Linked DNA regions of Homo sapiens. The protein of the gene in region 1 interacts with the protein of each later gene in a pairwise test. Each region holds a gene or a part of one and is shown on either strand. Other genes may lie near its edges.

Region 1 (7,302 bases):
CATTAAGTATCAAGTGTTGTTACCCTGTAGTAGTACAGAAGTAACAGTAAACTAGCAATTAATAGAAAAAGCTAGATTCCTGAAGGTTATGGCATTTAGAAAGATCTTAATTGTTCACAATGGTAAAACTAGGAAACAAAAGAATTCTATAGCCTCAGACATGTCTCCCTGAAGACCACAGCTACATGTGAAACTTACGTTTACTAAGGTACCTTTACTAAACTTACCTTAACTAAAGTTAAGTTTTTAGAAGTTTTCATAGGTGTAAATATTGTATGTAGTTACAGTATTTGCTGGAGCCATTAGCATCTGGATAACACTTTATTCATGTTCTTTAAATAACTCACAGCCCCTAATTTAGGGGATTCACTTTACTTGCTTAGCTGCTAAGCGTGAAGGGTTGTTTGCACATTTGCAAGCGTTCAATTACTTCATGCTGTCTTCAGGTAAACCTCATGGAAATGCCATACAGAGTTTTCAAAGCATGATATTTTCTGATTGAAAATTCAGTGGACACTCTAAAAAGGAGAGCACAGAATTAAACAATGTAGAGAGAGCTACAACAGCATATGGACATCAGTTCGCTGGGCTTGTAGGTGAAGCATACCACTAAGCAAAAGCCAGGACCTAGATGGTATCTTGGATTCCTACTGTTCGCTTTCTCTTTCTCTCTTCATCTCAAAACGAAAACCACTCAAAAGTGGTCTTTCAGGACACTATCATTCCGCACCTGAAATACTACAACAGCGACCTGACTAGTGCCATGCTCACTCTCAATTTTTTGAACTTTAAGTGTGTTATTTCCTTATTTGGAATGCCCTTCTTTCACCCCTAGCTCTTCCCTGGCAACCACCTCCAGGTTCAAGACTGTATTAGTCCATTCTCATGCTGCTATAAAAAACTGCCCGAGACTGGGTAATTTAGAAAAGAAAGAGGTTTAAGTGACTCACAGTTCCACCAGGCTGGGGAGGACTCAGGAAACTTAGATTCATGGCAGAAGGGGAAGCAAACATGACCTTCTTCACATGGCAGCAGGAAGAAGTGCAGAGCGAAGGTTGGAGAAAAGCCCCTTATAAATTATCAGATCTCATGGGAACTCACTAACACGAGAACAGCATGGAGGTAACCGCTCCCATAATTCAATTACTTCCCACTGGGTCCCTCTCCCACAACATATGGGGATTATGGGAACTACAGTTCAAGATGGGATTTGGGTGGGGCCCAGCTAAACTGTATCAAAGACTAAGATCAGGTTTCATCCAGGAAAACTTTCCTTCCCCCTAAAGCTGACTCAGGTGCTGCTTCTTTCTGCATCCCATTATTCTCACACTATGGTAATTACCCATCATGGTACACACCATGACTTTAAAATACCGTAAGGCTGTCTGCCACCCCACTGGGCTTTATGCTCCTCAGGGTAGAAATTATGTCTCATTTTTCATCTATGCATTTCTAGCACCTAGTAGAGAGATAGACCCTAGTAAGCATGCAATGCAATATTTATTGACTGACAGATTGTTTTTCTCATTTGTTCTTTTAGGCGACTATATCTTACCCAAGCTGCTGGACTAGAAGTGCCACCTGAAGAAATGTCTTTGGAATTGCCAGAAACACATATAGGTATTACTTTATTGCAATAATGATGATGATTTTTTTCAAACTCTTGTTTTTCAATTTAAAAAACACTTACCTATTGTGAGCAGGTGCCCCACATACAAAAGCTATTCAGAGAATAGACACCTGCCAGCTTCTCTAAATTTCTCCTCTTGCAGTGCTTGTCCTAATCTATCTCCTGTCTGTAGTCCCACTTTCAAATTAAGGTCACCATGTTTCACAGTAAATTAAATAAATACTGGTGAAGAGGGATGAGACTGCTGTCTACACTGGCAAGGTTTAGGGCCCTATTTAGCCAACCAAAATGACAACATATACTTAGGCACCAATATAATTACTATAACTTATTAGCTAACAGAAAGAAATACAACTTAGAGTTTCTACAAATGGGACTCCCTCTTACTTTAATACATAAATTCTACATTTGCAATTCTCAAAGTTCCATCCAATTAAAAATGTGACAAAGTATGTATTGCATTTTTATTTGTATATGTTCAAAATGTATACATAATTAATTCCTTTGTATTTATCCAAGAAGAGAAGTCAGAATTGCAACCCACAGAAGTAGAAAGTAGAGACTTGATGTCCTCATCAGATGAGAGCACTATCTTACATCTTAGTCATGAAAATAGCATCGAAGATCTCCAGTATGTGAAGATAGATAAAGAGGAAAACTCAGGCACAGAGTTTGGGGACACTGATATGAAGTACTTACTATATGAGGATGAGAAGGATTTCAAGGTAAGATTCATAACAACACAACTTTGACTACTAAGAAAATGCTGTTTTGAGAAATGCTGTTTTAATTGAGAAAATTAACCTAAAATATGGATATTGAAAATTCCATTTGCAATTATTAGTAAAATTGGCCCACCATTCACATCTCTCATTTGGATACCATTTTCACTCCTACTCTTGCCCAATTTGCTACCTATATTCCTCTATAGGCCTCCATTAATAGTATACAAAGTAAGTTATCTAATGCTACATAACAATCCCCAAAACCTAGTGGCTTATAACAATAACTATTTATTCTCGCTTAGGGCTCTGTTGGTTAGAAATTCAGGAAGGGCTCCACTAGACAGTTCTCACTTGGTGGACTCTCAGTCAGTTGCAACCATATGTTGGCTAGGGCTGCACTCATCTGAAGGCTTGATCGGGGCAGGAGTCTTCATTTCCAAGGTGGTTTATATGGCTAGCATGTTGATGCTGGCTAAACTGAGGGCCTCACTTCTTCTTCACATGTGCCTCCTGACAGGGTGTTTTGAATTTCTTTTGTTATAGTGTCTGTCTTCTCCCAAAACAAGCAACCCTAGAGACCAAGATAAAAGCAGCAATTTGGCTGCAGTGGCTCATGCCTGTAACCCCAGCACTTTGGGAAGCTGAGGTGGGCGGATCACCTGAGATCGGAAATTTGAGACCAGCCTGGCCAACACGGTGAAACCCTATCTCTACTAAATATACCAAAAATAGCTGGGCATGGTGGTGCGTGCCTGTAATCCCAGCTAGTTGACAGGCTGAGGCAGGAGAATTGCCTGAACCTGGGAAGCAGAGGTTGCAGTGAGCAGAGACTGTATCATTGCACTCCAGCCTGGGTGACAGAGCGAGACTCTGAAAAGAAAGAAAGAAAAAAGAAAAAGAAAGAGAGAGAGAGAGAGAGAGAGAGAGAGAGAGAGAAAGAAAGAAAGAAAGAAAGAAAGAGAAAGAAAGAAAGAAGGAAAGAAAGAAAGAAAGAAAGAAAAGAAAGAAAGAGGGAAGGAGGAAAGGAAGGAAGGAAGGAAGGAAAGAAGGAAGGAAAGAAAGAAAGAAAAGAAAGAAGGCAGTTTTATATGGCTTAGCCTTGGAAATCATACATTGTCACTTCCATCATATTCTACTGGTTGATGTAGTTACAAAGTTCCATCCAAGGGGAAGGAACATAGCTCCTACATCTTGATGGAGGAAGGTCAGTATCACATTGTAAGAGAAGCACTTGGGATAGGATATGAATTAGGCTATCTTTGGAAAGTACAGATTGCACATATACCATTCATTAAAACCTGGAGTATTAAGCCTTTTAATTTTGAAACTTCTTTCTAGTACATTCCAGTTACTCCCACAGCCATCCCTTGTTATTTTCCCTCTTGATACTTTAAAAGTTCTCCTAGAATTTGATGTCTGGTAGTGGAAAAAATGATGTAAGAAAGCAGAAGAAACTGAATAAACCAACACAAACCATTTTAACTAACTACAATTCAATCCTGCTGCCATCAAGCGATGATTTAAAGACTAAAGTTCTAGTTCCTCTAGCACTGAAACATCTCCATGCGTATCTTGGAATCATGACTCCTGGGATGTCATGATGATCTCAGGCTAGTGGACAGTTGTCTACAAAATCCCCAAATAGCATACCATTTGGTTGAATGAAAGACTTACTTTCCATGAAAGTTTTTGATGTAGTCAAACTGCCATGGCCATGGTGTATTACTTGAGAATCCTCCTCCCAGTGATTCTGAAATATGTGGTAGGTCTCCATCAACTTGCTTTTCTACTATCTTACATTTATCACAGCTACATATTTTGAAAGCTAAATAGAATTATATGTATTTTGAGAAATAAGACATCACCTTCCTTTTTCATTCTTTGATTCTTCTAAATTCAAATAAATATTTATTGAGAACCCCACAACATGCCAGGTCCTTGTTAAATGCTTGTGCATTTAAGGGAGAGAACAGCAAGAAATGAAATCTCAAATATGCCTATACAGCAGGCCTTGCCCCCAAATCACTTACAGACTTGTAGAAGACAGGTAAGAAAATCAACAAGTACCATATAAGAGTAAACAGACCACCTGTACCTGTGTCCCTGATCAGTCTGTGCTTATCATTGCACCCCAGCACTTGATATAGGGCCTGGCATACAGTGAACACTTGGGAAAGGTTTGCTAAAGTGACGTGTCAAAGGAATTAAAAAGCAAGAGTTATGGCATGGGAGACTTCCTGGAGGAAGGGACATTGGGTAGGGCGTGAGCTCTGTCCACCCAGTTTTGGGTTGGCTATGGATTTCATATCAGTTAGACTTCAAATTCTGTTTGTTGATATCTTAGATTTGTAAACCAAAAGCTATCTGAGACAGGTCTCAATCAATTTAGAAGTTGATTTTGCCAATGTTAAGGACAGTACCTGGGAGAAAAAAAACCCACAAAATCACAGAAATAGTGTGTGGTCTGTGCCTGTCTCCAAAGATGACTTGGAGGCCTTCAATATTTAAAGGAGAAAAGTGGGCTGGAGGGGAAAGCAGGAAGGTATGGTCATCCACATGTTGCAAGAGAAAAGGAGCAGGTAGGGGAACAGTCAATTATGTATTCACCTCGCACTTTACAAAAGATCAGCTGAACATAGAGTAGCTACCTGTGGGGATATTTAACCTTTTATCTGTACATATCTGCTTAGGAACAAAAGCAAAGGCAGTTGCTTACATGACTCAGCTTTCAGCTTAATTTTTTCCTTTTGGCAAAGTGAATTGGGGTCCCATGTTTTTATTTTCCTTTCACAGACTATAGTTAGTTTTGCACTAACTATAGCCAGCATCCCTCCCCCATTAACCCACTATGAGACAAGCCTTCCAGCCTTGCTGCCTGCTTTTGGAAGATCTTGCCTACTGTGTATGCCCTACTGGGTATATAAGTTTCCTGAGTATTTTGTTTTTTTCCCATTTATAGTGGCTCTCATATTTCATGTGCTACACAGCATCAGGCAATTAGGGGGCAATGAAGTCTGTCAGATAAAGGCCAACTGTAATAAAGAAAGCCTAATCTATCAAGCTGGTAATTTGCTGAATCACCTCTCCTATTCTTTTTTGTGCCTGTTCACCATAGGATTATGTAAACTTGGGCCCCCTGGGAGTGAAGCTTATGAGTGTGGAGAGCAAGAAAATGCCCATTCATTTTCAAGAGAAGGAAATTCCAGTCAAACTCTATAAAGATGTCAGGAGCCCAGAAAGCCACATCACATATAAGATGATGAAGTCTTTTCTCTAAGACGGAAAGCTGCAAAGGAAACACAACTTTTCCTTATAAATGTTCTTTGGGAACTGAAGTATATCCGTTGCCCATTTTACTTACACTTTGGCTCATTTTTAAACCAGCTGTTATTTCTAAAGGTCATATTTACATTTAAAATCAAAGGTATTCAGCTATTCATTTACTTGCATGGTATGAGTGACCAAAACGGAAGCACGCTTTGTATTTCTACACTGAAGTATTCAGAAGCATGACAGTGGGTTCAAGGTAGTCTCTGAGGTTCCTTTTCACACACAAAAAATTCACTGATTAATCTGTGATTCCAGTATGAAATAGTTCCATTAGAAATGTTTCTAAGAAAAACTTAGAAGTTTGCATAGCATTGTCTACACATCTTTCCCTCTGAGGATGCTCAATGTGATAGACAGCCAGTCTATAATGCAAGCCAATTCTCCGTAGTTTAACCCTGTGTATTAGTCTGTTCTCATGCTGCTAATAAAGACATAATTGAAACTGGGTAATTTATAAAGGAGGTTTAATTTATTTACAGTTCAACATGGCTGGGGAGGCCTCACAATCATGTCAGAAGGCAAATGAGGAGCAAAGTCACATCATACATGGTGGCAGGAAAGAGAGGGCTTGTGTAGGGGAATTCCCATTTATAAAACTATCAGATCTTGTGAGACTTATTTACTACTTCAAGAACAGTATGGGAAAAACCTGCCTCCATGATTCAATTACCTCCTACCAGGTCCCTCCCACAACACATGGGGATTATGGGAACTATAATTCAAGATGAGATTTGGGTGGGGACATAGCCAAACCATATCACCCTGTTTATAATGAATATAAAAAATGAATGTTGGAAATAAACTTGAGAGTGTTAATTTGTTGTATAAAAATATTCCACTGATAGGGAGCACTCCCTCCCTCCAGCTGTATCTAGTCTAAACTACCACATTCCTATCCAAAGCAAATACCACTTCTCTCAGGGCTACCACAAGCCAAGGACACTGTGAGTACCTGGATGTGACATCAGCATTCCATTTGGATCCTTGAGACCAGATAATACCACCATATGTCATATTTCTGTAATCTTTAGTGATATAAGGATTAATTTAATCATCAGTGGGGGATGTTATTGGCATTTAAAGTAAGGACAATTGTGCAGCACTGTCTTGAGCCCACAGGATGTTAGCACTCCTGCTCCCTCAATCTCAAATGCTGCTACATTAACACTCTTCATTGTAGAAGTTGAAAACACTCGTCATCTTTCCCAACACCCCTTACATTGTAGTACCATCACCAATTGAACATCTTTGAGTTTCTCAATTTTTGGAGACAAGGACTCACTCTGTCACCCAGGCTAGAGTGCAGTGGCACTATCATAGCTCACAGCATCCTGAAACTCCTGGGCTCAAGCAATCCTCCTGCCTCAACCTCCCGAGTAGCTGGGACTGCAGGTCTGTACTATCATGCCTCAACCTCCAACAGTGCTAGGATTACAGGCATGAGCCACCGACCGGCCTCTCCTGTACTTTAATCTCCATTGTGTTCGGTGCTTTCCTGGACCCTTCCCATTCTCTCCCAAAACTTCCAACAACAACCTCTAAAAAAACAATAAACAAGACAAATGCCACTGTTGAAGGTGTAAATGTCCAAGGGGTTCACCTTGCCTGCTGCCTATA
Region 2 (7,640 bases), on another chromosome or scaffold:
GAACTCGTCAAGTTTGCTGGCCCTGGGCAAAACCAGCCCATCCCCGGACAGCTCCTCTCCTGCCTCTGTGTCTGCGAAGGACTCGGGGGGAAATATCTAAAATAGAATAGAAATAGGCTGTGGGTCAAACAATAATTTCAAAGGTATTCAAATCATAACTTAATTTCGCTTTGAATAAGCTTCTGTATATTAGGGACTGGGGAGAATTTGGGGTCTGCCAGATGCACTGGCTCACACCTGTAATCCCAACACTTTGGGAGGAATTTTTAAAAATAAGGTGTGTTTCTTGGTCTAAAGAAATTTCACAACTTGGTCTATGAAGTGCGCTTGGTTGAAGGGATGGAGAGGGAAGTGAAGAGCTGAAGTTGGTTCCCTATGCCATACAGTGCAGTAAGCTTTTACAGAGTACCTCACCTACACCAGGCTTTCTGACCCCTGCACTCCAGGAATCCTGCCCATGATGATGGCCACACTCTCCCTTACTTGGGTTTTAACCTACTTCTTGCTCATCTTCCTTCTCTCCCTTCCCTTATTTCTACTCCTCTGCTTTCCTCATGTTCTAGCTAATTTGCACTCTGTCAAGGAATGGATGATGGCTGGGTGCAGTGGCTCATGCCTGTAATCCCAGCATTTTGGGAGGCCGAGGGAGGTGGATCACCTGAGGTCAGGAGTTCAAGACCAGCTTGACCAACATGGTGAAATCCCGTCTCTACAAAAATACAAAAATTAGTTGGGCGTGGTGGCGGGTGCCTGTAATCTCAGCTACTGGGGAGGCTGAGGCAGGAGAATCGCTTGAACCCGGGAGGCGGAGGTGGCAGTGAGATGAGATTGCGCCACTGCACTCCAGCCTGGGCAACAAGAGTGATGCTCCGTCTCAAAAAAAAAAAAAAAAAAAGGAATGGATGATTAACAAGACAGACAGTATGGTCTGGCTGGAAGAGCAATGTCTTAAGAAGTGGGACACACAATTAACTTTTTCAGTACTCCATTCATTCATAAAATATTTACTGGGTGCCTGATGTGCACTGGGCATTTGGCTGAGAACAAGACAAACAAGGTCCTTACTCTCATGAAGCTTACACTGTAGTAAGAGGAGACAGACAATATAAGATGATGATAAATTCTGTGAAAACCATAAACAACTGTGAGGTTATAAAAAGATGGAGTGCCTATGGAAAGCTTTTTGGTTGATAAAGTCCATCAGATTAAGGTTATTAGGAATGTACTTGTAATCAGTACATCAGTTAGGCTTATTAACTTGCTGCAGGACACTACGGAAAACCACAGGGAACTTAGGGTTGAGGGTGTGATTTTTATAGGGTTGGCTTCCCTGATTGATTCAGGGAACCAGGTATCAACTCTGGAATGGTGCTGTCATGAAGTGGGGACAATTTAGTTAAGCGAATGACTGAGCAATTTTTTTTTTTTGAGACAGGTTCTTGCTCTGTCACCCAGGTTCTGGAGTGCAGTGGTGCAATCATGCCTCACTGCAGCCTGAACCTCCTGAGCTCAGGTGATGATCCTCCCACCTCAGCCTCCCGAGTAGCTGGGACTACAGCACACACCATCACACCTGGCTAGTTTTTGTATTTTTTGTACAGATGGGGTTTCACCATGCTTCCCAGGCTGGTCTCCAACTCCTGAGCTCAAATGATCCGCCTGCCTTGGCCTCCCAAAGTGCTGGGATTACAGGCGTGAGCCATTGGGCCCCGCCCAACGGCAATACTTATTCAAAAGGTGAGAAGAATAAAGTAGGGTGGGTAAGTAATTGATCAGTAAGCCTTTTGGAAGAAGGGGTGTTAGTAATTTTGCACCTATGTTATGGCCCTGAGAGAAACACTGTTTCCTGATGCTCTTGCCGTTGGCATTATCTATGCCTATGACAGTCTGAGTTATACTTTCTCAGTCCTGGGCTGATTTTTATTTTTCATTGTGGAGGAATTTTGAATTGACACTTGATTGATGAGGAGCCAGGCTTACTAAAATCCAGGGTAAGAGTCAGAGATATGTATGCACCCTAGCCCTGGCTCTGCTACAGTGTGTGATCTTGGGCACGTTTTTTCTTTTCTTTTAAAGACAACTTTATTAAGACATAATTTCTATACAATATATTCACTCATTTAAAGTGTACAATTCAGTGGTTTTAGTATATACACAGAGTTGTGCAACTACCATCACAATTTTAGAACACCTTCATCGCCCTTAAAAGAAATGCCACACGCTTTAGTGGTCACTCCCTATTTCCCCTAACCCTCCACACCCCACCCCACCAGCCCTAAGCAACTGCCAATCTACTTTTTGCCTTTAATAGTTTGGGGTCCACCAGGTGCACTGGCTCACGCCTGTAATCCCAGCACTTTGGGAGGCCTTGGCTGGTGGATCACTGGAGGCACGCGCCACCACACCTGGCTAATTTTTTTTTTTTTTTGAGACGGAGTCTCGCTCTGTCGCCAGGCTAGAGTGCAGTGGTGCAATCTTGGCTCACTGCAACCTCCACCTCCCGGGTTCAAGTGATTCTCCTGCCTCAGCCTCCCGAGTAGCTAGGACTACAGGCGCGCACCACCATGCCCAGATAATTTTTTGTATTTTTTTGTTTGTTTGTTTTTGTTTTTGAGAGAGTTTTGCTCTTGTTGCCCAGGCTGGAGTGCAATGGCACAATCTCGGCTCACTGCAACCTCCACCTCCCAGGTTCAAGCAATTCTCTTGCCTCAGCCTCCCGAGTAGCTGGGATTACAGGCATGTGCCACCACGTCCAGCTAATTTTGTATTTTTTTTAGTAGAGACAGGGTTTCTCCATGTTGGTCAGGCTGGTCTTGAACTCCTGACCTCAGGTCCCAAAGTGCTGCATTACAGGAGTAAGCCACCGCACCCGGCCAATTTTTGTATTTTTAGTAGAGACGGGGTTTTGCCATGGAAACCAGCCTGGTCTCGATCTCTTGACCTCATGATCCGCTTTCCTTGGCCTCCCAAAGTGCTGGGATTACAGGCGTGAGCCAGCGCGCCTGGCCAATTTTTTTTTTTTTTTTAAATTTTTAGACGGAGTTTCACCATGTTGGCCAGGCTGGTCTCGAACTCCTGACCTCAGGTGATCCACCCGCCTCGGCCTCCCAAAGTGCTAGGATTACAGGCGTGAACCACCACGCCCGGCCAAATTTGGGGAGCAATTTTCTTAATCTCTTTGTGCCTCAGTTTTCTCTTCTACAAAAATGAGACGACAATTGTACTACTGGTCATAGAGTACTAAGAGGATAAGCGAAAACTGAGTGACATTGCCTATCAAGAGCCTCGTATAAAGTCCGAGAGGTTCAGGTCTGTAAGTCAGAGTCCGCCTCCTGGTCCCTAAACGCTCATTTTAATCCCACGCCCCTCCGTGACACGCCCCTGCTGTCTGTCTCCAAGGCAACGCCCAACAGTTTCCTCTCCGGGATTCCTTTCCCGGGGGCAGTCTCTTTTCTCTCCTCACCTGACGGCTCCCCTCCGCGCCTCCGGGGGCTCCCTCAGGCCTCCCCACGGTCATTTCAGCTGGACAGAGGCAGCAGCGACAGTGACAGCGATAGTGGCAGCAGCGGTGGCAGCGAGAGCTATGCGGGGCCAGGGTCCACCCCTTTCTAGCTTTGGCGTCTGGTTGGCTTCCAGGGCAGCCTCCGATCCATCCCGCCCGAGGAGGCAAGGTTCGTTTTCCGATTGGCCTATTTTCTCCGCGCATTTTATTTCCGGTTCTGAGGACGCCGCGGAAGCGGGACGGGATTGGAGTGCTCTGCTCCGGACGCACTACGTAGGTGGGCCTGCGGGAGTTCTGAGTGCGACGGCGCAGGTCTGCACCATGGCGGCCCGGCTTGTCAGCCGATGCGGGGCTGTGCGTGCAGCTCCCCACAGCGGCCCGCTGGTGTCCTGGCGCAGGTGGTCCGGCGCCTCAACAGACACCGTGTATGACGTGGTGGTGTCGGGTGGAGGCCTGGTGGGCGCTGCCATGGCCTGTGCCTTGGGTAAGCCCTTCTCCAGGCTACTAGTGGCCGGAAACCGGGCCGCGGAGGCACGATGAGAGCCGTGAGAGCCCTAGCACGACTTGCCCAAAGACAATTTCTCAGGTCTCGCGACGCTTCTCCCCTCCCCTCCTAGAGGAACCCCAGGGCACGCCGGAATGCGTGTGGTCCTTCAGGGTCCATTAGGGTCAAAAGTGGGAGGGGCGTTCAGAGTCTGTTCTACTCATGGGAAAACAGGCCTTCCCGGGGTTATTTATAAATGAGAGTTCCAGTTTCTCCAGATCCTGGACAGTACTTGTCATTGTCTTTTTGTTTATAGACATTCTAGTGGGTGTAAGTAAAGTGGGATCTCCAGGTTTTGACTTGTATTTCCCTAATGATTAATGATGTTGAATATCCTTTCATATGTTTATTGGTCATTTGTATATCTTCTTTAGAGAAATGCCTATTCAGACCCTTTGCCCGGTTTTTAATTGAGCAGTTTGTCTCTTGAATACTGTGGTAAGAGTTATTTTTATTTTTTGAGACAGGGTCTTCCGCTGTGCCCAGGCTGCAGTGCAGTGGCACGATCACGGCTCACTGTAGCCTCAACCTCCCTGGCTGAATTGATCCTCCTGCCTCTGCCTCCCAAATAGCTGGGACTGCAGGAATGCGCCACCACTCGGCTGATTTTTGTATTTTTTTGTAGAGACGAGGTCTCACTATGTTGCCCAGGCTGGTCTGGAACTTCTGGGCTCAAGCAATCCACCTGCCTCAGCCTCCCAAAGTGCTGGGATTACCGGCATAAGCAACCCTGCCTGGCCATTATTTTGTTTATTCTGTATAAGTCCCTTATCTGATAAATGACTTGCAAATATTTTCTTCCATTTTGTAGTCTTTTCACTTTTTTTTTTTTCCCTGAGATGGAGTTTCGCTCTTGTTGCCCAGGATGGAGTACAATGGCACGATCTCAGCTCACTGCAACCTCTGGGATTACAGGCTTGTGCCACCATGCCTGGCTAATTTTTGTATTTTTAGTAGAGACGGGGTTTCACCATATTGGCCAGGCTGGTCTCGAACTCCTGATCTCGTGATCCACCTGCCCCTTCCTCCCAAAGTGCTGGGATTACAGGCATGAATCACCATGCTTGGCCCATTATGAGATTTTTTTTTTGTGATTTTTTTTTTTTTTTTAGCTCATCAGCTATCATTAATATTAGTGTTTTTTTATATGTGACCCAAGACAATTCTTCCACTGTGGCCTGGGGAAGCCAAAAGATTGGACACCCTGATCTAAGGGCAGCTGTTCCACCCTATGATCCTCATCTCACAAGATACACAAAATTTAACTTAAAGCAGATCATAGACTTCTGTAACAGGGTGGTTCTCATGGCTGCTTGGGAGGCTGAGGCAGGAGAATCGCTTGAAACTGGAAGGGGGAGGTTGCAGTGAGCTGAGATCGCGCCACTGCACTCCAGCCTGGGCAACAAGAGCGAAACTCGATATCTCAAAAAAAAAAAAAAAAAAAAAAGAAGATAGTGCCCTTTACAGAGCATGCTCTACAGAGCATGTCCCTGTGCCCCATCCTCCACAGCAAAAGCTGCCAAGATGGACCGCTCACTGTCTGTATGGCTGGAGCTAACTTTTTTTTTTTTTTTTTTTTTTTTTGAGACAGAGTCTCTGCTCTGTCACCCAGGCTGGAGTGCAGTGGCAGGATCCCAGCTCACTGCAACCTCTGCCTCCCAGGTTCCAGTGATTCTCCTGCCTCAGCCTTCTGAGGAGCTGGGACCACAGGCGCCCGCCATCACACCTGGCTAATTTTTGTGTTTTTAGTAGAGATGGGGTTTCACCATGTTGCCCACGCTGGTCTTGAACTCCTGAGCTCAACTGATCCATCACCTCAGTCTCCCAAAGTGCTGGGATTATAGGTGTGACCCACTGTGCCTGACCTTTCTTTCTTTTCTTTTCTTTTTTGTAGTTTTTGAGACAGGGTTTTGCTCTGTCCCCCAGGTAGGACTGCAGTTGCACAAACATAGCTCAGGTGTGCCACCATGCCTGGCTAGTTAAAAAAAATTTTTTTTTGTAGAGACAGGGTCTCGCCATGTTGCCCAGGCTGGTCTTGAATTCCTAGGCTTGAGCAATCCTCCCACCTCGGCCTCCCAAAATGCTGAGATTACAGGCGTTAGCCACCATGCCTGGCTCACGTTTTCTTTTATAAACTCTAATTCTTTCTTTTTGAGACAGAATTTTGCTCTTGTTGCCCTGGCTGGAGTGCAGTGGTGCAATCTCCTCCTCCCAGGATCAAGCGATTCTCCTGCCTCAGCCTCCCAAGTAGCTGGGATTACAGGTGCCCGCCATCACACCTGGCTAATTTTTTTGTATTTTTAGTAGAGACGGGTTTCACCATGTTGGCTAGGCTGGTCTTGAACTCCTGACCTCAGGTGATCTGTCCACCTCGGCCTTCAAAGTGCTGGGATTACAGGTGTGAGCCACCGCACCGGCCTTTATAAACTCTAATTCTTTATTCTTGGTTTAATCTTGAGACTGCATTGAATTTTGCTTGTTTATTCCACTTTTTCTTTTGAACAGGAGTTGTAATTTTTAGTGACTTAATACTCTGGAGATTGAAAAGAACTGGTGTTTAAATACTGTAGTCTAACTTTTTTACTTCATTTTTCCTTTCTAGGGCATTCTGTTTGCTAGTTAGGTGTTTGCCATTATTTGCTTCTTGGCACGTGGCATGTAGTGGTCTTTGGAGAAGTCTTACAGTTGTGGGCAGGGTGGTTCTCATAGCTAAAATGGTGGTATATGTTATTGCTTAGGACTCTGCATGGGTATAGTGTTTATGTTCTCTGTAAGAAATTCATATTCTAAGGGTTAAGTGGTTACTCTGTTGTTTCTCTTGGTAATGGGAAAGGAAATTCTTGATTTTCCTAAGATGATATAAATTTTCTTTTTTTAAGGATATGATATTCACTTTCATGACAAGAAAATCCTGTTGCTCGAAGCAGGTCCAAAGAAAGTACTGGAGAAATTGTCAGAAACTTACAGCAACAGGGTCAGCTCCATTTCCCCTGGCTCTGCAACGCTTCTCAGTAGTGAGTAGAAGATCCTCCTTCAAAGATCCAATCTCCTTTCCCACTTAGCTTTCTAGTGTATCCCATGGGGCAGAGTCATCAGAGCATCTGACAAGGAGGGAGCTCACTGAGGTGGGTGGAGAGAGGGGGTGGGATTGGTAGTCTAGGGCAGAGTTGAAGATGTGGACCCCTGCAGTTGCTACTGCCTCAACTCCCTGTCTGAGGAATGCATCCTTGAGGCATGTGGGTCCATCATGTTGACTTCACTTGTGATGTTGTGTCATTATGAATTGGTGGAACTGAAATCATATGAACTAATCATGAACATTCACTTTGAATAGCAGGGCTCTCTTCATCCTGAGTCAAGCCTTCTAGCAAGCTAGGGAGCTTACACGTGAAATTCCCTTGGGGTGCAGATGAATAATGTGTGCACATGGAACCAGTTAGCAAATTGTCATTAGGTCTGCTAGATGTTTCCCTCAGACCATCCTGTCTGAAACCACCCCATCTCAAATTGAACTCTTCCATCACTTTCTAGCCCCTTTCCCTGCTCTATTTTTCTTCATAATGCTTACTACTACCTGGCATTATATTATGTGTT

Evidence for each region. The genes of interacting proteins can lie anywhere in the genome.
Region 2: the proteins of CCDC83 (region 1) and FAM161B interact in binary tests that used the Homo sapiens proteins (3 or more experiments, as listed by UniProt).

What each region holds. Positions count from the first base shown.
Region 1 is NC_000011.10:85,913,879-85,921,180, forward strand, and holds the end of CCDC83 (coiled-coil domain-containing protein 83), read left to right. Parts: intron 1-1,540; coding exon 1,541-1,620; intron 1,621-2,149; coding exon 2,150-2,355; intron 2,356-5,470; coding exon 5,471-5,632; 3' UTR 5,633-6,135; downstream 6,136-7,302.
Region 2 is NC_000014.9:73,946,510-73,954,149, forward strand, and holds the start of FAM161B (protein FAM161B), read right to left. Parts: upstream 3,584-7,640; 5' UTR 3,518-3,583; coding exon 3,464-3,517; exon of another isoform or gene 3,409-3,463; intron 97-3,408; coding exon 1-96. Other genes in the region: COQ6 (ubiquinone biosynthesis monooxygenase COQ6, mitochondrial), read left to right, coding at 3,824-3,986, 6,926-7,060.